Linked DNA regions of Homo sapiens. The protein of the gene in region 3 interacts with the protein of the main gene of each other region in a pairwise test. Each region holds a gene or a part of one and is shown on either strand. Other genes may lie near its edges.

Evidence for each region. The genes of interacting proteins can lie anywhere in the genome.
Region 1: the proteins of TRIM32 (region 3) and RAB29 interact in binary tests that used the Homo sapiens proteins (3 or more experiments, as listed by UniProt).
Region 2: the proteins of TRIM32 (region 3) and DERL1 interact in binary tests that used the Homo sapiens proteins (3 or more experiments, as listed by UniProt).

The regions. Positions count from the first base shown.
Region 1 is NC_000001.11:205,772,466-205,779,332, reverse strand, and holds the start of RAB29 (ras-related protein Rab-7L1), read left to right. Parts: upstream 1-3,850; 5' UTR 3,851-4,060; exon of another isoform or gene 4,061-4,246; 5' UTR 4,247-4,376; coding exon 4,377-4,500; intron 4,501-6,765; coding exon 6,766-6,837; intron 6,838-6,867. UniProt on the Homo sapiens protein: The small GTPases Rab are key regulators in vesicle trafficking. Essential for maintaining the integrity of the endosome-trans-Golgi network structure.
Region 2 is NC_000008.11:123,039,286-123,046,821, reverse strand, and holds the start of DERL1 (derlin-1), read left to right. Parts: upstream 1-4,519; 5' UTR 4,520-4,699; coding exon 4,700-4,852; intron 4,853-7,536. UniProt on the Homo sapiens protein: Functional component of endoplasmic reticulum-associated degradation (ERAD) for misfolded lumenal proteins. Forms homotetramers which encircle a large channel traversing the endoplasmic reticulum (ER) membrane.
Region 3 is NC_000009.12:116,690,282-116,697,304, forward strand, and holds part of TRIM32 (E3 ubiquitin-protein ligase TRIM32), read left to right. Parts: intron 1-7,023. UniProt on the Homo sapiens protein: E3 ubiquitin ligase that plays a role in various biological processes including neural stem cell differentiation, innate immunity, inflammatory resonse and autophagy.

The sequences.
Region 1 (6,867 bases), on a different chromosome or scaffold from region 3:
CCTTCGGTGACCTTTAAGACAATCCACTCCCACTTAGTGAATAATATAGTTTCTCTTCCTTTTGATTTTCTTAATAATATTTAAGTAAGATTTAGATGTGTAGAAAGAAACCTGAAGAGTATTCTGAAAGGTGATGCATCCTGGACAAAAACAGAAAATCAAAAATGACATTGGGCTTTAAAAGAGCATAAGGAACCTCACCTTGTTGGAAGAAGGAAACTCCCATTTGAAGTCGGGTGAGATAAAATTGGTTAGGTAGGCCGGGGCAGGTGCATAGAAAGCTTTGGACACCAGCTTCAGGGAGGTTGGCCTTTTTTTTTGAAAGACAGTTGGTAGACAAGGAAGAACAAACAATGGTGTTTTAGGAAAACCATCCTGTCCAGTTGTAGACGGTGAGTTAAAAAGAAAATAAATTCAGGGAGACCAATAAACAGGTTACTGCAGGAATCCAGGTGTGAGATGGTGAAAGCCTGAACTAGGAAAGTGTTACTTGCTGATTACCTGGGTGACAAAATTATCTGTAAGCCAAACTCGCGCAACATGCAGTTTACTCGTGTAACAAACCTGCACATGTACCCCTTGAACCTAAAATAAAAGTTGGAGAAAAAAAAAAAAGGAAAGTATTACTGAATATGAAGCAGAGAGGATGAGTGGGAGAAACCATTTACTGAAGAAACAATCAATCAGACATGGTAACTGAATTTTTTTTAAAAGGGTATAGACCAGGTGCGGCGGCTCACGCCTGTAATCCCAGCACTTTGGGAGGCTGAGGCGGGTAGATCACTTGAGGTCAGGAGTTCAAGACCAGCCTGGCCAACATGGTAAAACCCTGTCTCTACAAAAAAAATACAAAAATTAGCCAGGCTTGGTGGTATGCGCCTGTAGTCCCAGCTACGCAGGAGGCTGAGGCACAAGAGTTACTTGAGCCCAGGAAGCAGAGGATGCACTGAGCCAAGATCATGCCAATGCACTCCAGCCTGGACAACAGAGTGAGACTCCATCTCAATAAACAAACAAACAAATAAATAGGTATAAAGGGACATGTGTAAAGGAAATAATAATGCTCAGAATCTGAAGTCTACATGGAGGCAAGAAATGATGAGACCAGTGACAGAAATAGGGAAGCTGAGAAAAGGAGCTATTTTTATGGCAATGTAGTAAGAGGAAGGATGTGGCAGGACATCCAAGTGGGGGCACCTTTTGGGCAGCTGAATATCACTGATCAGAGATAAAGAACAAATAAAGTGTTAATGGTAGCTATGATAGCGGTTATCACCAGTGCCGTGAGTATTCCTTCATTAAGGGCTGACACAGAGAACAATTATACTTATTGGGTATATTTATCAATCTTGGCTGGCAATAATGCCTGGATGCAATCACTTTATGACGCAGTTACACATGCTTTCTGATCTCAGTATTTACCATAATAAATCTGCTCCTATAATTGAGGCATACCGCCCTCAAAAACTTATTTGTAAACAGGATTGGACCCAGTTAGAAAAAATGAACGTACTTGTTTAGGAAGATTGCATTGCAGAACAGGCAGAGATGCTGCACAATGATTCCTATGGAATCATTATTAATTGGTCCCCTAAGGGGATGTTTAGCTTGAATTGCACCTCTCAGTCTGCGTGCCACGGCCACACTATGTTCAGCTGGTCTGAACAAAATGGTCAGATGGTAGATATAATAAGAAGTACAGCAAGAGTTCCTATTATCTGGAACCATGGCAGTATAGTGACACCTCAACCTCAAATGATATGGCCCGCTCTAGGAGCTTAACATAAGGATTTAAAATTAAAAGAAGAAATATTTAAAGCATCCGAGGCACACTTGACCTTAATGCCAGGAACTGGAGTGCTTAAAGGAGCCGAAAATGGATAAAAACACTTGGAAGCTCTGTGATTTCAATGATGATTGTGCTTTTAATCTGTGTTGTTTGTCTTTGTATAGTCTGCAGATGTGTATCCTGACTCCTGCGAGAAGTAGCTCACCGTGACAAAGCTGCCTTTGCATTTATCAATTTGCAAATCAGAGAAGAGGGACATGTTGAGAGCAGGCCCCCCAAAATCTGGCCATAAACTGGCCCCAAAACTGGCCATAAACAAAATCTCTGCAGCACTGTAACATGTTCATAATGGCCCTAACGTCCACGCTGGAAGGTTGTAAGTTTACAGGAACGAGGGCAAGGAACACCTGGCCCGCCCAGGGTGGAAAACCGCTTAAAGGCATTCTTAAGCCACAAACAATAGCATGAGTGATCTGTGCCTTAAGGACATGCTCCTGCTGCAGTTAACTAGCCCAACCTATTCCTTTAATTCGGCCCATCCCTTCGTTTCCCATAAGGGATACTTTTAGTTAATTTAATATCTATAGAAACAATGCTAATGACTGGTTTGCTGTTAATAAATACGTGGGTAAATCTCTGTTCGGGGCTCTCAGCTCTAAAAGCTCTAAAGGAAATCAGACCCCTGATTTCCCACTTCACACCTCTATATTTCTGTGTGTGTGTCTTTAATTCCTCTAGCGCCACTGGGTTAGGGTCTCCCCAACAGAGCTGGTCTTGACAGAATATCACTGATCAGAGATAAAGAACAAATAAAGTGAAGATAGATCTTTGACACCAAGGACAATTCACTAAAGAGTTTATCGAATGATTGACTCAGAGACCAAGAATCAGGCCTTAGGAAATACTTAGCGGGAAATGGGATGGAGAGAAACCTGAAAGAAAAAGATAATCATCAGAGAAGTACGGGGATGACAAAGAAAGAACAGCGTCATAGAAGGCATAAGGGAAACAAATGTCAAGGAGTGGTCAACTATGTCAAAACGAATAAGAACAGAGAAAACTGGATCCTTAAAGATGAGTAGCTTGAACTAACCTCCTGTACCTGGGTAACGAACATTCTGGGCAAAATATATTGTGAACCATGCTGATGTTCTTTCGCCACAAAACATAAGTGATAGCCTCTCTATCAAGAGACCTAGATTTCCTAGTGTCTGGTCCTGGGCTGTTTTCCCATGGCCCCGCTGGTTCTCTTCCTCTATTCCTAGAAAAGTATAGAAAATGGAGCTCTCTTTGCTTGCCATTGAGCTCATGTCCTGCCAACTTCTACCCAAGTGACAGGTAGGTCAGTAAAGTTACAGGCTGAGAAATTAAAATTATTTGCCAAACACTAGTTTTATGATTATCTATTAACAACAGCCACAACAAATCAAGAAGGAGTCCCAGTGTATTTCAATTAGCTTCTAGCTCAAGTGATACATGAGTAGTATGGCTAGAATAGGCATTGTAGAAGTATGAATGGAGAACTGTCTCTTGTTTTCTGTCCATCTTTATTGTTATTGCTGGATATTAAATGCTGTAATTTTTGGCATAGGTTTTTTTCCAAAGACTGGTCTCTTGGGTCAAGTTTTCCTGAACTTGCCTGGTATTGGGCAAGTTCACACAGAAAATATGAGTCATTTCACAAAGTCCTGGGCTTGTCTATCTACTTGAAGGAATAGGAAATGGACTTCACTTGGAGCATGATGGATGAGGCTTGGGCTTTTACTAATGAAATAAGTTTCAATCTTAACTCAGTTAAACCTTTAAAGACAGGAGAAAACTATCTGGGGATGGATTCAGGCCAGTGAGATCACGTTGCACAAATCTCCCCTTAAGGGATCTTTACTGACCTAGAATTGTTTCAAAATAAGATTCCAAACTGTCGAGGGAGTTTGAAGCCTTGAAACTTGGTGTAGGTTTGCTTAAAACAAAATAACGAATATACTACATTTCCCAGGAGGCTTCGCGGTGAGCCTCCGCACTCGGCTGGTTCTCTTTACCGCGAGGAAAGCTGGGAAATGTAGTGCCACAGGCAACCCTGCACGTGACGCTTGCGGAGGAAGGGGAGAGAGAGGCGCGCGGGAGGGCGTCTAGGGAATCGAGGTGCCGGCTGCTCCTTCCTCACAATTTGGTTTGTGCTGCAAGGGGAGGGTCCCCATCATCTGGCCCCAGTGGTGTAAGGAGCTGACTGGGATTCAGTCACTGACTTGGAGCCGCTCGGGGGAAGTCCCGGTGGGTGAGGTTCCGCGGCGCCTGGTCCAGTTTCTCGGCAGTCAGGCCAGGAGGGGGTGGGGAAGGTGCGAACAGCCGGGGGCTCGGAGCTCGCGCCCTGCGCCCCACCCAGGTTGCGGCCGCCCGGGGAGGAAGCGCGTATAGGTTGAGTGCAAAGTTTCCTTTTTTGCTTTCTCGTCAGAGCAGCCCAGACAGGCGGTGGGTGGGAATGCCTCACTTCAGTTTGAAGAGGGTCCGGATCCAAAGGGGTTAAAACGAGCGACCCCCGATCCCCGACCACACTTCCCGCCTCCCTAAAACGCACACCCCGCTAGCCATGGGCAGCCGCGACCACCTGTTCAAAGTGCTGGTGGTGGGGGACGCCGCAGTGGGCAAGACGTCGCTGGTGCAGCGATATTCCCAGGACAGCTTCAGCAAACACTACAAGTCCACGGTGGGAGGTGAGACGTCTCGGGGGTGGGGAGGGGGAGGGGGAGGAGGAGGCCCCGACCGCGGACTCGAGCTGGGGACCCAAGTGGGGTGGGGATTTGCTGTCGGTTGTTGGGTCCTTCTTCGGGTCAGGAAGTACTGTCTGGGAACCTAGATGGTGTAATTGCCGGGTGTTTGGTTTACACGCCTCTCTTGAGTTTCCCGTTAGATTTTCCCAAACTGAGCCCACTGCCAGGAGAAAGGTAAGAGCAAAGGCGTGAAGATGAGAAATAGGGAAGGGAGGATGAGGATGAGCAATTGCTGTTTATTGCAGGCGTACTGTGAACTTAAGTCTCCAGCCTTTCAGCTGTCCGGCAAATCTCTCCAATCAGCAGAAGCAGCTGAGATCCTCTGTGGGGCCTCCTGGTTAGGTGCCGGCTGGGGCTGTAGTCCTGCCCCTCTGTTGAGGGAGGAACCGCAAGGTGTTTAACCTGGCTTCAGTGGGAGAACGCAGGAAGCGGAACTGGTCTGAAGGACTGTAGCTTTGTTGTGGGGCTGTGGGTGGGATGGAAGACACAAAATCCCCGAACGAGCCCCTTGGCTACGCAGTCAGATGCCCATGAGGGCTGATGAGCTGTGTTTTTGTCCGTTGATTGCTTAAATAAAGGTAACCAAGGAATTCTTCCAAGAATGTGAAATATACCACTTCTCTGACCTATCTTCCCACCACTTTTTTCCTCAAACTGGAGAAGGTAGGGAGGAAGGGGACACCGAGTTCATTCATTTCTTTCCCGGGTGTGGCCTTTGGACTCAACTATTTTTTCAGAGGCAGAAATGCCTTATTGTTAATTAGAAGGTATTTAGCTAGGAAGAGCTGGTGATGGGGGAGAGTAACTTAAAATTTTATTTCTCTCTGTTAAAAGAACTTGTTTCAAGGGGGGAAAACTCGTACCAATGGAAAAATTGAAAATGTGTGCTCCTGTTCATATGGAAGTTTAAAAAGAAATTAACAAACATTTACATTGCAATTAAAACATTCTCCTTAAGAACCCCCAGTAGGGCCCAGTACCGTGGTTCATACTTGCAATCCCAGCACTTTAGGAGGCTGAGGCGGGAGGATTGCTTGAGCCCAGGAGTTCGAGACCAGCCATGGGAAACATGGCAAGACCCCCACCTCTACAAAAATTAAAGAAGAAAGTAGCCGTGGTCCCAGCTACTCGGGAAACTGAGACGAGAGGATTGCTTGAACTGGGGAGGTCGAGGCTTCAGTGAGCCCCGTTCGCACCACTCACTGCACTGTAGCCTGGGCAACAGAGTGAGACCCTGTCTCAAAAACAAAGGAACAAAAAATTTAAGTCTGGCAAAATTAAAGGTTCAAAGTTTCAGACACTCTATCCTGACCGCTCTGCCCTCCCACTCCTAAATAATATAAGGGTCCCTATTTCACGGATTTGGGTTAAAAGTGGCCTGCTATTAATAGTTAATTTTTAACAATTGCTGTAGTTTTCCTTTAGCAAAGAATATAATTGGCTAATTTTTTTTTCAGTGTTTAGTCTAAATTTCCCTTAGCTTTGATTCCTGTCACAGATGTGAAAGATAATATTTCCAAACCTCAGAAATTACTCTGTTTCTCTCCTTAGCCAAAAGGCTTTCCCCATGGAATACTTACTCAGCCTTAAGGAGTCTCAGCACCTGCAGACTTGGTGGTAGATTCCAGCAGGACTCTTCAGCAACATCCACACAGTGTCTTCTTCTTGGGACTCCTCTGGGACCTTTTCCATTTATTCCATTCTTGCCCAAGATAATACCTGCAACCTTATGGTGGATGTAGAGTTCCCCAGGGTGTGTTCTTTTCATAATACAATTTGATTAGAAACCAACAGTGAAATTGAATGTGGAAGATACGAAAGCAACCACACTTGTCTCATTTCCCCCTTCTCCCCCATCACCCCTTCCCTGAGAAAACCCCCTAAATCTCCCAGAAACTATTTAACCTGAGAATGAGAATTGTTTTCATAGTTACTCCCACCCCCAGTCTTGGAGACAAACAGTAGCAAATAAATGAGCTTGACAGTAGAGTAAAAGCTGGAAACCCCTTTGGAGAGTGAGTATGAATCATCCATCTCACACTAAATACACGCATGTGGACTCATCTCAGTGAATTGAGGGCTTAAAGTTAAACATATGGGATTGGAGTTGTGTGTCCATAGGGTTTCACTGCCTATTTGATTTGAGTTTATCCCTATTAATTTTTTACAGTGAAATTTTATTAAAGTATAATGTACATATATTTTCAGTGGATTTTGCTCTGAAGGTTCTCCAGTGGTCTGACTACGAGATAGTGCGGCTTCAGCTGTGGGATATTGCAGGTAAAGTGGGAGGGCTAGATAGGAACAAGG
Region 2 (7,536 bases), on a different chromosome or scaffold from region 3:
CTGGGCATGGTTGCAGGTGCCTGTAATCGTAGCTACTTGGGAGACTGAAGCACGCGCGTCGCTTGAACCCAGAAGGCAGAAGTTGCAGTGAGCCGAGATCACACCACTGCATGCCAGCCTGGGCAACCTGGGCAAGAGAGTGAAAACTCTGTCTCAAAAAAAAAAAAAATTTACAAAGTTTTGCACAGAGCCTTGGAAAGGCCTGTGCAAGTGAGGGGTCCTGTAGCCTAAGTTTGATTAGGTTCACAATCACACCACCTCTGGGAGGAAAAGTCATTGAGCTGTTAATATCTTTTTATTTTAAATCCTACTCCTGGAAATCAGTTCAACAAAAGGATCGAGAGGCAGTGTGGCCTAGTGGGTAAGAACAGTAAAATACAAGGTCCTTTCCATAACCTACAGTGTCCTCCATGATTCCAGTGACTCTCTCCTTCCTTTGTCTCTTGACCCTCCATCCCCACTCTCGCTCCACTCAGCCACATGGGTCTTCGTGTTTAAGGTCTCCATGCCAGCCACATTCCCACCTCAAGGTCTTTGCCATTCCTTCTATCTGAACTGTTCTTCCTCCAGATCTCCACACTGCTTGCTCTTTCACCACCCTGAGACGTGTACTCAATATCTTCTGAGTTTGCAGTGAGGCCTTCCCTCACCAGCCCAAATCTCCTTTTCTTCTTTTTTCTTTTCCTATTCCTATTGCCAGTTTACCTACTGTACATGTTACTTTTTTTTTTTTTTTTTTTGAGAGGAGTTTCGCTCTTGTTGCCCAGGCTGGAGTGCAATGGCGCAATCTCAGCTCACTGCAAACTTCACCTCCCGAGTTCAAGTGATTCTCCTGCCTCAGCCTCCTGAGTAGCTGGGATTACAGGCGCATGCCACCATGCCCGGTTAATTTTTGTATTTTCAGTAGAGACGGGGTTTCCCCATGTTGGCCAGGCTGGTCTCGAACTCCTGACCTCAGGTGATCTGCCCACCTTGGCCTCCCAAAAGTGCTGGGATCACAGGCGTGAGCCACCGCGCCCAGCCTGTACATCTTACTTTTATCTCTTTCTGTTGTCTTTCTGCCTCCTCTAGAATGTAAGTTCCAAGAGGGTGGAGATAATTGTCAGTTTAGTTCACTGTTTAGAACTGTTATTGGTATATAACAAGCACTGGACAAAAGCATTGCTGAATAAATGAATGAAAGAGCACCACCTTTGGGCTGGGCGTGGTGGCTCATGCCTGTAGTCCCAGCGCTTTGGGAGGCCGAGGTGTGTGGATCACTTGAGGCCAGGGGTTTGGAACCAGCCTGGCCAACATAGCGAAACCCTGTCTCTACTAAAAATACAAAAAAGTAGCCAGGCATGGTGGTGGACACCTGTAATTCTGGCTACTTGGCAGGCTGAGGCAGGAGGATTGCTTGAACCCAGGAGGCGGAGTTTGCAGTGAGCCGAGATTGCGCCACTGGCACTCCAGCCTGGGTGACAGAAGCGAGAGGGAGACGCTGTCTCAAGAAAAAAAAAGAAAAAAAAAAGCACCACCTTTGGCTTTAAATAGATCTGGGTTGAAGTTTTATATATGCACCTGCCGGCAAGTGCCAAGTTACTTAACTTCTCTAAGGCTGTTTCTTCATTTGTAAATGGAAATAAAAGTACTTCATAGGGTTGAAGCATTGTTGTAAAGACTAATTAAAACCATGCCCATAAAGGGCATAGCTGAGTGCCAATCAAACTGTAGACACTCAGCAAATGTTAGATATTAGTAAATAAAAAAGTTAGCTATTAGTATAAAATGTATATGCATAAAGGTATTCATTATAGAACTATATATAGTATTTAAAAACAGGTATCAGAAATAGGAAAATGGTCAAAAGATTCTGCCACATCACTAGTAGAATATTAGTCATTAAAATGATTATTAAGACTTTGTAGAAAGAGAAAGCCTTTAAAAAATAATTATTTAAATAATATTATTAATAAATTAATAATAAATTTAATAAATATTCAATATTATTTAAAAATAATAAATATTTTTAAAAGCCAGTCAAATTTAGCAGTGGGGGGTTGTATACCAACTTTAGTGACACTAATGTTAATAAGTTCTGATAAATCACTACCATCGGACCAGCCAGAAAGCCTTTGAATGTAAAGTTACAAGAAAAGACCAGACATACCTGGCCTACCGTTGCTCTGATTTAAACTTCAGTGTTTCTAAAGGCCGAAGTTGAATTCCAGAGCATTCACTATGAATTCTAGAGCACAACTTAGAAATAAACACTGCCAGGCCGGGCGCGGTGGCTCACGCCTGTAATCCCAGCACTTTGTGAGGCCGAGGCGGGCAGATCATGAGGTCAGGAGATTGAGACCATCTTGGCTAACACGGTGAAACCCCGTCTCTACTAAAAATACAAAAAATTAGCCGGGCGTGCTGGCGGACGCCTGTAGTCTCAGCTACTCGGGAGGCTGTGGCAGCAGAATCGCTTGAACCCGGGAGGCGGAGCTTGCAGTGAGCCGAGATCCCGCCACTGCACTCCAGCCTGGGCGACAGAGCAAGACTCCGTCTCAAAAAAAAAAAAAAAAAAGAAATAAACACTGCCAGATATTGGGTGTACATTTTTCTTGTTCTTGTCTTTTCTCATGCACGTGTACTTTTAAGTTTATCAGAGAAACTTTCCTTAGCCCTCCACCTAAGCCAGATAACCCCTGTTTTCTTTCACTGTACCTTGGTTATGAGTAGTGGGTACAAAACAATGGTGGTGGTAGTAGAGGGAAATAAACAGAATAAACCTCAGGCAATATCGTCAAGTATTATCTGTTATTTATATAAATATCTAGCTTTTATATCAAAATTATCTTTTTGTAAGGCTGTATCAATTTATATTCCCACCAGCTGTGTTCTTCGTAGATTTGCTATCCATTGGTTCCCAAATGTTGTATACTCTCATTACACTGTGGAATATTTAATGCCTTTTTGTTATGAAAAAACTGTTTTTATTAATTAACATCAAGGATATGGTGCTGACAAATATTCTCTAAAATTATGGAATGTTGGAAACTCTGCTGTCTGACATCCTTTCCGTGTGAATGGAACATCCCATTCTTGTCCAGAGCATCTGAGCCATACAGGTCACTTTGACACAGGATTTTCAATACAGGTACAAAGCTTTAGATAGAGTTTTCAGACCCAACGTTTCACATTTGTCGTAATTTTGAGATTTCCAAGGAAAGAGCCTGCTTCCTACTCAGGTCTGATGTTAACCTGATGCTGCACACAGCTCTGCTTTGCTTCGAGTCTATCAAACACTGCTCCAGTTAATTCTTACCAAAAAATCCCCCCATTCCCATAACCCAATAATGACACTTCCGTTTGATGAGAGGCATTGAGGTTCCTCTGGAGTGCAGTCTCCCTTGCTGCAGCAAGTTAATAAATCTAACTTTGTTGACTACAGGTTTGTTCCTGGTGCTCTTTATTGGAAGACTTTAGCAATCTTAAACTGCTGGCCCCAAATCCCAAAACAACGGGAAACTCTACTCAGTATCTTTTCTTTTTTTCTTTTTTTTGAGATGGAGTCTGGCTCTTGTCCCCCAGGCTGGAGTGCAATGGTGCAATCTCGGCTCGCTGTAACCTCCACCTCCCGGGTTCAAGCGATTCTCCTGCCTCAGCCTCCCAAGTAGCTGGGACTACAGGCGCCCTCCACCATGCCCGGCTAATTTTTGTATTTTTAGTAGAGACGGGGTTTCATCATGTTGGCCAGGCTGGTCTCGAACTCCTGACCTCGTGATCCGCCCGCCTCGGCCTCCCAAAGTGCTGGGATTACAGGCGTGAGCCACCGCGCCTGGCCAGTATCTTTTCTTAAAGATTCCTTCTTATACAAGTTGAATTAGACAAGATGGATCATTTTGGCTTTTAGTTCCTCCAACATTCCAACCTAGTTAGAGCGGCTTTTCTCTGTGCATGGAAAATTCTTCCCCCAGATCTCTTGCCTGGCTGGCCCAGTTCATACCTAAGGTAGCCATCTGTCCTCACACTGCCGCACCCCCACCCCGTCACTCCACCTCATCATCTCATTTCATTTTCCTATTTTTCTAATCACTCTCTGAGATTATCTTACTTCATTATCTATTTGTTTATAAATTATCCCAATGAGGATGTTAAGATCAGGAGAGAGGGTACCACGACAGCGCTGACAGCCGCAGCTGCCCAGTGTCTAGAACTGTGCCCAACAAACACTTGTGGAATGAGTAAGCAGACGAGGAACTAGACACTTCGTTTGCCTTCGTCCCCTTTAAATACCCTCCAGGTGGACCCAGCCGCATTAAAACTCTGAGAACTAGGTGAATGGCATTTGGCCTCGCCACTGGCCGGAGCGTTTGCCGTTGATCCAGGCAACCACTGTTTTCCCACCAGTCGTGTAGTCGCTCTACCTGGCTCCGCCCCCCAGGACGCCGAGCCTCGGCCGGGCGGTAAAATCGGCGCTTACCCTTTAAGCGGCGGGACTTCTGGTCACGTCGTCCGCGGTCGCCGGAAGGGGAAGTTTCGCCTCAGAAGGCTGCCTCGCTGGTCCGAATTCGGTGGCGCCACGTCCGCCCGTCTCCGCCTTCTGCATCGCGGCTTCGGCGGCTTCCACCTAGACACCTAACAGTCGCGGAGCCGGCCGCGTCGTGAGGGGGTCGGCACGGGGAGTCGGGCGGTCTTGTGCATCTTGGCTACCTGTGGGTCGAAGATGTCGGACATCGGAGACTGGTTCAGGAGCATCCCGGCGATCACGCGCTATTGGTTCGCCGCCACCGTCGCCGTGCCCTTGGTCGGCAAACTCGGCCTCATCAGCCCGGCCTACCTCTTCCTCTGGCCCGAAGCCTTCCTTTATCGCTTTCAGGTACTTACCGGAGACGGGGGGCGTGGAGACTACAGGCCCCAGGAGGCCCAGCGGCGGCTAAGCGTAGGCTGGCATGTTGCGGGCGCGCGGTGCCTGCTGGGATTTGTAGTGGGTCCGGCGCCGGCGGTTTAGGGCGGGGTCCTTTGGGCCCGGGGAGGCTCTGGGATCTGGAGCGGGGTGCTGGATAGCTGGAGTTGTGGGCTGGCCTGGTGGGGAGGGGTTGACTTCACTGGTATAGTGAGATTGTGCTTCCCGCTCTTCGCACTCAGTGAAGGAAGCAGTGAGATTAGTCGTTGGTAGTTGTCAATCTGTTGGACGCTGGCGATTAGGTCCGCCTGGAGCATTGCCCTCTGACCTCCCTCTGTCACCCACGTGGGTGGCCTGTAGGTGTCAACTTCACCAACTTATAGCTGAGTTCCTTTCACGTTTATGGAGTTTTTTTGTTTTGGTTTTCCTATAGGAGTGATTTAAAGTCAGAGATACAAAGAACGAGTGTATTGTTCTGCATTTCCCTCTAGACCTAATTTAGTGTCCCCCACGTAGTAATAGAATGTACGAAGGAATGGGCAAAGAGTACATTTGTCCAGAAATGGAAGGCCTTGTTATTTTCTTAAGCATGAAGGAAACAGTCCAGAGTAACATTTCTGTCAAGAGAGTGCCAGTTTTCTGAAGGTTATCTGTATTCACCAATTTCTGATTTAAAACTTCAATCAGTGGCAGGTCAGATAGCAAGATCTGGCATTAATTTCAGCCCTTTACTTGGCCTATGGATAACATTTTCTTGTCTTTCCCTGTCTTCACTGGGTGTTACTTCTTGGTTTCCTTTGCTGGTTCCTTATCTTCCTGACTTTTAAATGTTAGGATGTGCCTTGGGAATCAGTTATAGGACCTTTTCTATAGACTCTCCCTAGCTTTAGGTGGTCTCATTCATTCAGCCTCAGGGCTTTACATACTTTCTATAAACTGGAGATTCTGAAATATAAATATAAATATCTTCAGTCCAGATCTGTCTCCCTATTTCCAGATTTGTGCATCCAGCAGTTACTTGAAATCACGACTTGGATGACTAAGAGTCATCTTCATCTTAACGTGTCCAAAACTGAATCCCCTTTCCCCCTTTGCCTTAGAAGTGAATAGCAACTCCGTTATTAGAGGAGCTGAAGTTAATTGTCGGAGTCATCTTTTATTTTTCTTGTTTTTCTCACACCCCACAATCTGTCAGCAAATCCTATTGACTCTACTTGAGACATATATCCAGAATACAATCCCTTTTCATTCTCCATTGCAAGCCATTATCACTGCAATCTGGTTCCTTTCCATCTTTTCTCTAGACAGCTAGAGTGATCCTTTTAAAACCTACATCAAGTCCTGTCTTTCCTCTGTCCAGAATCCTACCATGTCTTCTTAATGAGTAAAATCCAAGTCCTTTCAGTGGCCTGCAAGGCCCCTGCTGCTTCTCTGACCTCATCTCCTACTACTCTCCAACTTGTACCTTAGGCTCCACAATGAGATCCTTGCTGTTACTTCAGTGCTTATCTGGATCTCTCCTCAGGGCCTTTGCACATGTTGTTTCTCTGCCTGAGGAAGATAACCGTGGCTCAGTTGTTTACCTCCTAACCTTCTTCAGATCTCTGCCCAAATGCCGTCTTGTTGACAAGGCCTTCTCTGATGGCCGTACATAAAATAGCCCGTCCTTCACTCCACTCCCTTATCCCTTATCCTTCATTTTTCTTTCTTTCTTTCTTTTTTTTGGAGACGGAGTCTCGCTCTGTTGCCCAGGCTGGAGTGTATATGGCGCAATCTTGGTTCACTGCAACCTCTGTCTCCTGGGTTCAAGCAGTTCTCCTGTCTCAGCCTCCCAAGTAGCTGGAATTACAGGTGCACACCACCATGCCCAGCTAATTTTTGTATTTTAGTAGAGACGGGGTTTCGCCATGTTGGCCAGACTGGTCTTGAACTCCTGACCTCAGGTGATCCACCCGCCTCAGCCTCCCAAAGTGCTGGGATTAGAGGCGTGAGCCACTGAGCCTGGCCTTATCCTTCATTTTTCTTGCTACATATTACCCTTTGGTATTTATTAGTCTGCTTCCCCTCAGAGAATAAGGCTCCATGAGAGCCGTTCACCACTGTCCTTGTTACCTGGAATAGTGCCTGGGACGTAGTAGGTGCTTATATATTAACTGAGTTGTTGGAAGTAATTGGGCACTTGCTGTGTGCTGGGCACTGGGGTACAATAGTAAATAGGACTGAAAAGGTTTCAGAGCCTGTGAAGACATAGAGGCACGTGTTTTAAGGGGTGTAATATTTGATAGGGTGTTCCACCCAGAAAGGCCTCAGAGAAGACATTTGAAGAAATTGGAATACTGAGGAGCCAGCCAGCCAGCTTTGGGTAGATCTGGCTCTGGAGACAACCTTCCAGGAAGGACTAGTAAGTGAAAGGCTCAGAAGTAGGAGCTGGGAACAGGAAGAAGACTGGGTTGCCAGCTGGCACAGGGTCAGCTGTAGGGTGAGGATTAGTAGATGACAGCAGGGAGATAGCCAGGGCTGGGTGTAGTAAAGCTAAGATGGAAAGGTGGGTTAAAGCTAGATCATAGTTGAGCCTTGTAGGTCATGTTAAGAGGTTTGAACTTTATTTTGAGGGCACTATGAAGTCTTTGGAGCCTTGTGAACAAAGGACTGACAGA
Region 3 (7,023 bases):
TCTAGGTTTTATTCCTTGTTTACAGATAAGAAAAATAACAGGTTAAATGACTTACCCAGGGCTACAGAGCAAGTAGCTAGGTTGGGATACAAACCCAGTTCTGTCTTACACCTATGTTACATTATAGTAGTTTTATTAGAAGCCTTTTCCAACCCTTCAGAGCCCCTATGTTTATGTCTGGAGAATAGTTGGAAGCCAGAAGTTTATAAGGCCCTTAAAGTAGATCATTGTCTATGCACACTGATGTGTAACCTTTGTGACATTCCCTCCATCTTGTCTTTCTGGTAAAACAATCAAATTTAAAAATCATTTCTAGGTGCCCTTACCAACCTCTCAGCCAGACTTTGTCTAAAGCTAGGGAACTATGAAACATCCTTTAAGTTAGTAATTTTATGGCTGGGAGTTGATACTGGGATTTGAATCCTTGCTCTATTACTTATTGGTTTTGAGACCTTGGACAGGCTACTTTCTCTGAGCATTGGTTTCCTTATTTTTGAAGAGGAATCACACTTACTTTACATGGTTATTATGAGACTATGAGAACATATAAAAAAATGCCTGACAATAAATAGTAGTTGCTTTAAGAGTGTTAGCAATTATGAGAGGAAGGCAGTGCTGGAAGAGAACTAAGTGTTGCTTTGTCATATTTATTTATTTATACAGGGTCTTGCTGTGTCACCCAGGCTGGAGTGCAGTGGTGCAATCACAGTTCACTGCAGCCTCAACCTCCTAGGCTCAAGTGATCCTCCCATCTCAGCCTCCCAAGTAGCTGGGACCACAAGTGCATGCCACCACACCTGATTATCTTTTAAATTTATTGTAGAGATGGTGTTTCACTCTGTTGCTCAGGCTCTTTGCCAGATTTTGATAACCCTAAGTAGTCTCTGCTAGTCTCCCCAAAATTCTCATCCCATTTTGTATATTTCCTAGGATCTCCTTGATCCTTTAATCATAATCTCATGATTAAATGAACAGATGTTATATGCAGAGAAAGGAATTGAAAGAGAGAGAGGGTTGAGGTTAGTTGGAGGTCCCTGAGAAGGGGCTATTGATTTTTCCTTTGTCTTATATTCCTTGAGTCATACTGGCAGCGTAGGTACTACTCAAATGTTTGTGAAAGATGCAAGGGAGTCTTTCTAGGTCCTGCAGTTTTAGAGGAAGACAGAGACAACAGGCAAGCATGTTTTCCAGGAAACCCTATTATTCATTTAGCCTGCCCTTGACATAGTTTAGCTATGTTTAACTTAGTAATTTAGCTAAAGTTTTCTTTCTCTACAAACATACTTCCTTCTGGATCGTTTTGTTTGCCCCAGACTGGTACAACTTCAGGAGCATGCCTGTGTTTCCCTATAAGCCCCTACTTGTTGAGTTTATCTTAGTTGTCTGCAGGTGCCTTAAATGCCCTGAGTAATCTAAACTTCATCAGAATCCTCTCCCACACACAGGAGTGGATGTCAGGTGATGACCTCACTGAATTCGTTAAAGTCAGTCCTGCTAACGAGTGGCCTTTGGTGGCACAGTGATAGTTTTGCACTTGATTAGCATTCTGTTAGAATGCATGAGGAATAAAGTTTAGAAAGCTGACATAAAAGGAAATGAGATAAACCTTGCAAAAAACCCAGTCAAACCAGGGGAGCGTGTCAATAGTAGGATGGACCTTTATGTCTTGTGAAAGGAAATGCAATATTTTACATGTTGTCTAGTTTTTAGGGGAAAGCACTGTTTATGTCTGGTTTTTGCTCAAAATTGTATCACCAGTACCGTTCACAGGGCCAGACACATAGTAGGTGCTTAGTAAAGATTTGTTTTGTTAATTGCTTAAAGTTCTCCAGTTTTGCTCATGGCCTAAGCCACCAAAGGCTGATATAGGTAAAGGAAATGGAGATATCTAGAGAACCACCCCATGGTGGCAATTCAAGCATTAGGTGAAGATTTGAAACCTTAGATCATCTCTAATCTTTAGATTCTGGGATCAGGTAAAACAATTTCTAGGAGGGCTTAGAATTTTTATTATTTAGGTTTATGTATCTGGGGCCTTGGGTACAGTCTGCTGAAAAGTGCCTATTCATTTCTTCTAATAGGTTGGGTGGTGGCAGCAGCAGTTGCTGCTACTGCTAATAATAATAAAAACTATTATTTATGTATAGTTAATTGCATGCCTGGCTTGGTACTGTACTTAGTGCTTTACACACATAATCTCATTTAATCTTTGCAATAACTTTGTGAGGAAGATACTATTTTAAAGTCCCTTTCCATAGATAAACTGAGAACTACAGAAGTATTAATAACTTGCTCACGTCTCCACAATAAGTAGTAGAGCTTGAATTCAAATCCAGGAAAGCCTGATCCCTCAGGCCTGCTTCCTTAATCTATATAATACTGTCCACTCCTAGTTCGTGTCTTTTAGTCCTAGTTCTGTTGTGTGATTTGTGGTCTTAATTTCCCTCTCCTGGTCTTAGTTTTCTCATCTATTTTACAACTTGAGATTACTACCTTTTCTTCCCCTTTTGCCCAGGCTGAAGTACAGTAGCATCATCACAGCTCACTGCAACCTCCACTTCCTGGTCTCAAGTAAGGAGATTGCTACGAATTCTAGCATTTCATACTTAGTCTCTGCTTGAAGGAGCTACAGCAGCTCATTTTCTGGGCAAGACAAGTTGTAAATTCATTTACCCATCAGTTTTTAGCCTGTATGTCTGGCATTCTCAATCAAAACTCTTCAAAACTGACCAGCCCTTTTATTAATCTTTATATGCCTTTATATGCCATGAAAGGAAAGGTTGTTCATGCTTTCAAAATGTAGTTTGTAAACTGAATGCGTTATTAATACTAGTACTAGTTATTGTTAATGCTGTTTCTGGTTATTATTTATTTAGCATCCTTTTATTGTACACCTAAGGGTATCAGGCTAAGTACTTTATATGCATTTTCCATAGTCATTACAGTACTCTTTTTATAAACTAAGAAAACAGGTTTAGACAGGTTAAATAAATTGCCTGCTTCCCCACAACTTGTGACAGTGCTAAGATATGATCTCAGTCCTATATAACTTTAAGGTTCATTCTTTTGTTTTGTTTGCTTTTTCTACTACCTTGGTTACTCATTTCATGGAATGGGGAAAACCCAGTGGTGCTAGAAGAGGCGAGATTAATATGGAATATAATTATGTAATTTTTCTGAGTCTTAGGGCAGCCAGAGTAGACACAGCTTAAGGGACAGATTCTCATCGGGAGCTGAAGAGATGTGCTAGTACAGTATGGTATGGGATGTACAGTATTAATCATTAGGTCAAGGGATGTGGGAAGATGGTAGGCTGATGTTAGATGAGGTGGGAGGTCAAGAATTAATGGCACAAAGTGCACAACAGGAAACAGACATTCAAGGGATCATGAAGGGAGCCAAGATGATACATAGCATGTTGGATACTCATTCTGATTGGTTGTACAGTTGATAGCTGGCAGAAAATGGGCAGCTTACTTAAAGATTTGGAATGATAAGACAATTCCTTTTATTTGTGTAGTCTTTTGGGGAAACTGAAGTCAAATTGACCTTCTATCTGAGTCATTCTCAGTATTACAGTAATGACCAGATGTGCCCTTCTGGAGGAGACGGGCTCTATCTGCCTGTCTCTTAGCTCCATTTCAGGCTAAGATCCTTCACAAAGCAGTGTTTTCAAGTCATGGAAGTGGGAAAAGTGGTTCTGGCTTTTTCCAGGTTTGAGACTATTTCCGTGCCTCATGCTTTAGTGAGGGGAACACAGGTTTTCCTGGCAAAGCATGGCAGCTTTGGGGCAGGAATTCTTGACATCCTCAGAGAGCTTGGTGAAGCTGTAGTCAGCTGAGATAATTTGGGGATGTGGGCATAGTAAATTCATTTTTTTAAACCTGATGTCTTAGACAGAGAGGTAGGAAGCTTTTCAATTGAAGGAGGGATATGATATTCCAGAAAGCTTGGGAAATAATTTGCTGCTATTTTTACAAGTTGGCAGCCTTGTTTAATAAACTGATCTGCACTGCCAGCTCTGGGAAGAACACAGATGTCCCTGTGCATTGTAAGGTAACGTTCTAGATTCAAACTCCAAATGTCCTCAGTCTGTTGTCCCAGATGATAGAAGAGAGAACTGTAGCTATTGATTTAGAATTGAGAAGGGTTGCATGGATCCTGAGTTGTAATTTCTCTTTTTTTTTTTTTTTTTTTTGAGATGGAGTCTCGCTCTGTCACCCAGTCTGGAGTGCAGTGGCGCGTCTCGGCTCACTGCAAGCTCCGCCTCCCAGGTTCATGCCATTGTCCTGCCTCAGCCTCCCGAGTAGCTGGGACTACAGGCGCCTGCCACCACGCCCAGCTAATTTTTTTTTTTTTTTTTGTATTTTTAGTAGAGACGGAGTTTCACCGTCTTAGCCAGGATGGTCTCGATCTCCTGACCTCATGATTCGCCCACCTCAGCCTCCCAAAGTGCTGGGATTACAGGCATGAGCCACCACGCCTGGCCCTGAGTTGTAATTTCTATCAGTATGTCTATGCTATTGCCCCTAGACACTTGGCATTTAAGAATTTACCATTCATAGTTTCAGATATCCACATCAGACCTCATACGCTCATGATATATGGTAAATATTATTTTGCTGAGGTATGGATTTGAGTCATAATGGGTTGCAAGCTTGCTGTGTGAGAGTAGGTCACTCAGCTAATAAATCAATCTATCCCACTCTATAGCAGCAGAATCTCATAACTATATTAGTGTTCCTTCTGTGTTATGGAGAAAATGCGTATGCTATAAGGCAGCATTCCCCAGAGCGTGGTCAAGGGAACATTAGTTAATCATTGTTATGTGACAGTAAAAAATAGCTTGAAATAATGTTGGGTTAAATAAAGTAAAAATATCTGTACTTCAAGGTTCCACTATGTTTGAGCTGTGTGACCTTGAGCAAGTTTTTCTGAGCATTCGTTTCCTCATCTGTAAAATAGGATAATAAAAATATTACCACTTCATAGTGTCATCATGAAGATTAAAAGAGATTAAGCATATAAAGTATCTGTCATAGTAACTAGCATATAATAGGCACTAGATGCATAGTTTCCCTTGCAGTACAAAGGAAGTGGGATATCAGGGAGGAAGGATTAACTTTAGATAATTGTGCATGTCTGCTGCTATATATTTGTCAGATTGCATTCCAAAGCTAATATGGTAGAAATTTGTTGTAATGTATATCTCTACATTAACTCCCCTTCTTCTCTATGCCTGGAGAAAGAGTTGATGTCATGTGCAAAGTGTTCTTGAGCTAAATGCATTGTCCTTAAAATCAAACGAACTTGCCCTCCACTTCCTCCTTCTCCTGGGTGGTTGACCATCTGCAGATCACAAGACTGCACAGATACAGCTGTAGGATTTGCGTTTATGAAATGCTGACTTTATCATATGCCTCAACTTGCTAGACCTATTCATTCTGATTTGGGGTATACGTTGACAGTGACCTAAGGCTACAGAGCACTGAGATCTCTCTGGGTCAACTTCATAAGTATATGTATATCAAGAGGGTTGGAGTGTTCATGGTTTGTATTGGGTGACGCAGAGGGTACTCTAAGCCAGAAATAAACTGTCTTGATAAGGCACTGCTATTTTTTAAATCATCTAGGCTTGAGTCTTTGGCTATCTCTGCTCTTCACCACTCCCCCACCATAATCCACTCACCTTTCAAATCTTACTGACTATACTTCTGGATATTGCTCAAATGAATCTTTCCATTTCCACCACCTGCTCCCTAGTTCAGACTCCCCATTATCCCCGTCTTCTCTGATGTTTCCCCACTCCATTCCTGCTTTGATCATATCATCTTCCTGCTTCAAAACATTCATCACCTCACCATGCCCTTGAAAATGACGCTCAAAAATCTCATTTTGGCTCTGAAGACCTTTTATAATTATTCCCCCAATTTACCTTTCCAAGTCTGTTACTCTATTCCCCATATATACTCCCACAGTTTTAATCTAAGGATAATAAAAAAGAGAACTAAAATTCATTAAAGGCTTTTTTGGTGCAGAGCCAAATCTTAGCATTCTATACACTCTATATATTATTTCATTCTTACATTAACTCTGTAAAGACAGTATTTTTCCATTTTAAAGGTGGAGAAAATAAAATGCATAGAGTTTAAGTATTCTCTGTTTTCTTTCTAATACATGAAACTTCTTGTCCTTTCCTTTGCCTTTTATACTTTGTTAAGGTTGTGCCTTTTGCCCACTTCTTTCTTCCCTCTCCATGTATTTATGCATCTTTCCAGGCCAATATAAAATGTCATCTTCCCTTTGAAAATTCTGTATCCCTTCAGATTGGAATGACTCCTCAACCCCCATCAAACTTAGTTTTTATTTCGTTTATAGTACCACTTTCTGCCTTCATTATTATTTACCTACATGTCTTGTCTTTTATAAAGTTTGAATATCTGAAGAGCAGGATCTGTATCCTAAAGACCTCTTGTATCTAGTACAGAACAAGATACCTAAACTTAGATGGGTGGATAGGTGAGTAAGTAGGAGGATAGATGCGTGGAAAATGTGTATTTTCTGATCTGATGTTTTGCAGATCACCTAAAACTAATCATCACAATTTTCTGCTTCTGTGGATGATTCCTAGGCCCCCAAACATGACACAATAAACTCTGTGACATGATTAAAAAAAAAAAAAAAAGCCTCCACACTTTTGCTTACATGGTTTTCTTTGCTTAAAGTACCTTTATCCTCATTCCTTCATTTCTTTCAAGACATATCTTAGGAGTGAAACTGCTTTTGGGAAGCCTTCCCCAAGTCTGTTAGGTAGAATCCATCATTCCATCCACTGTACTCCAGCAGAACATTATGTGGACTTGCATGTTATACTTATTCCTTTTACTGTGCATAATTCTCCTGTGCTTTTCTCTTAGTGTAAATCAGAAGTTGTAAAATTCACCAAATATGAAAATAATCATTAGCTCATTAGCATTTATTACAAGTATACTACTTCCCTGGTGCTATACTAAGCACATCATA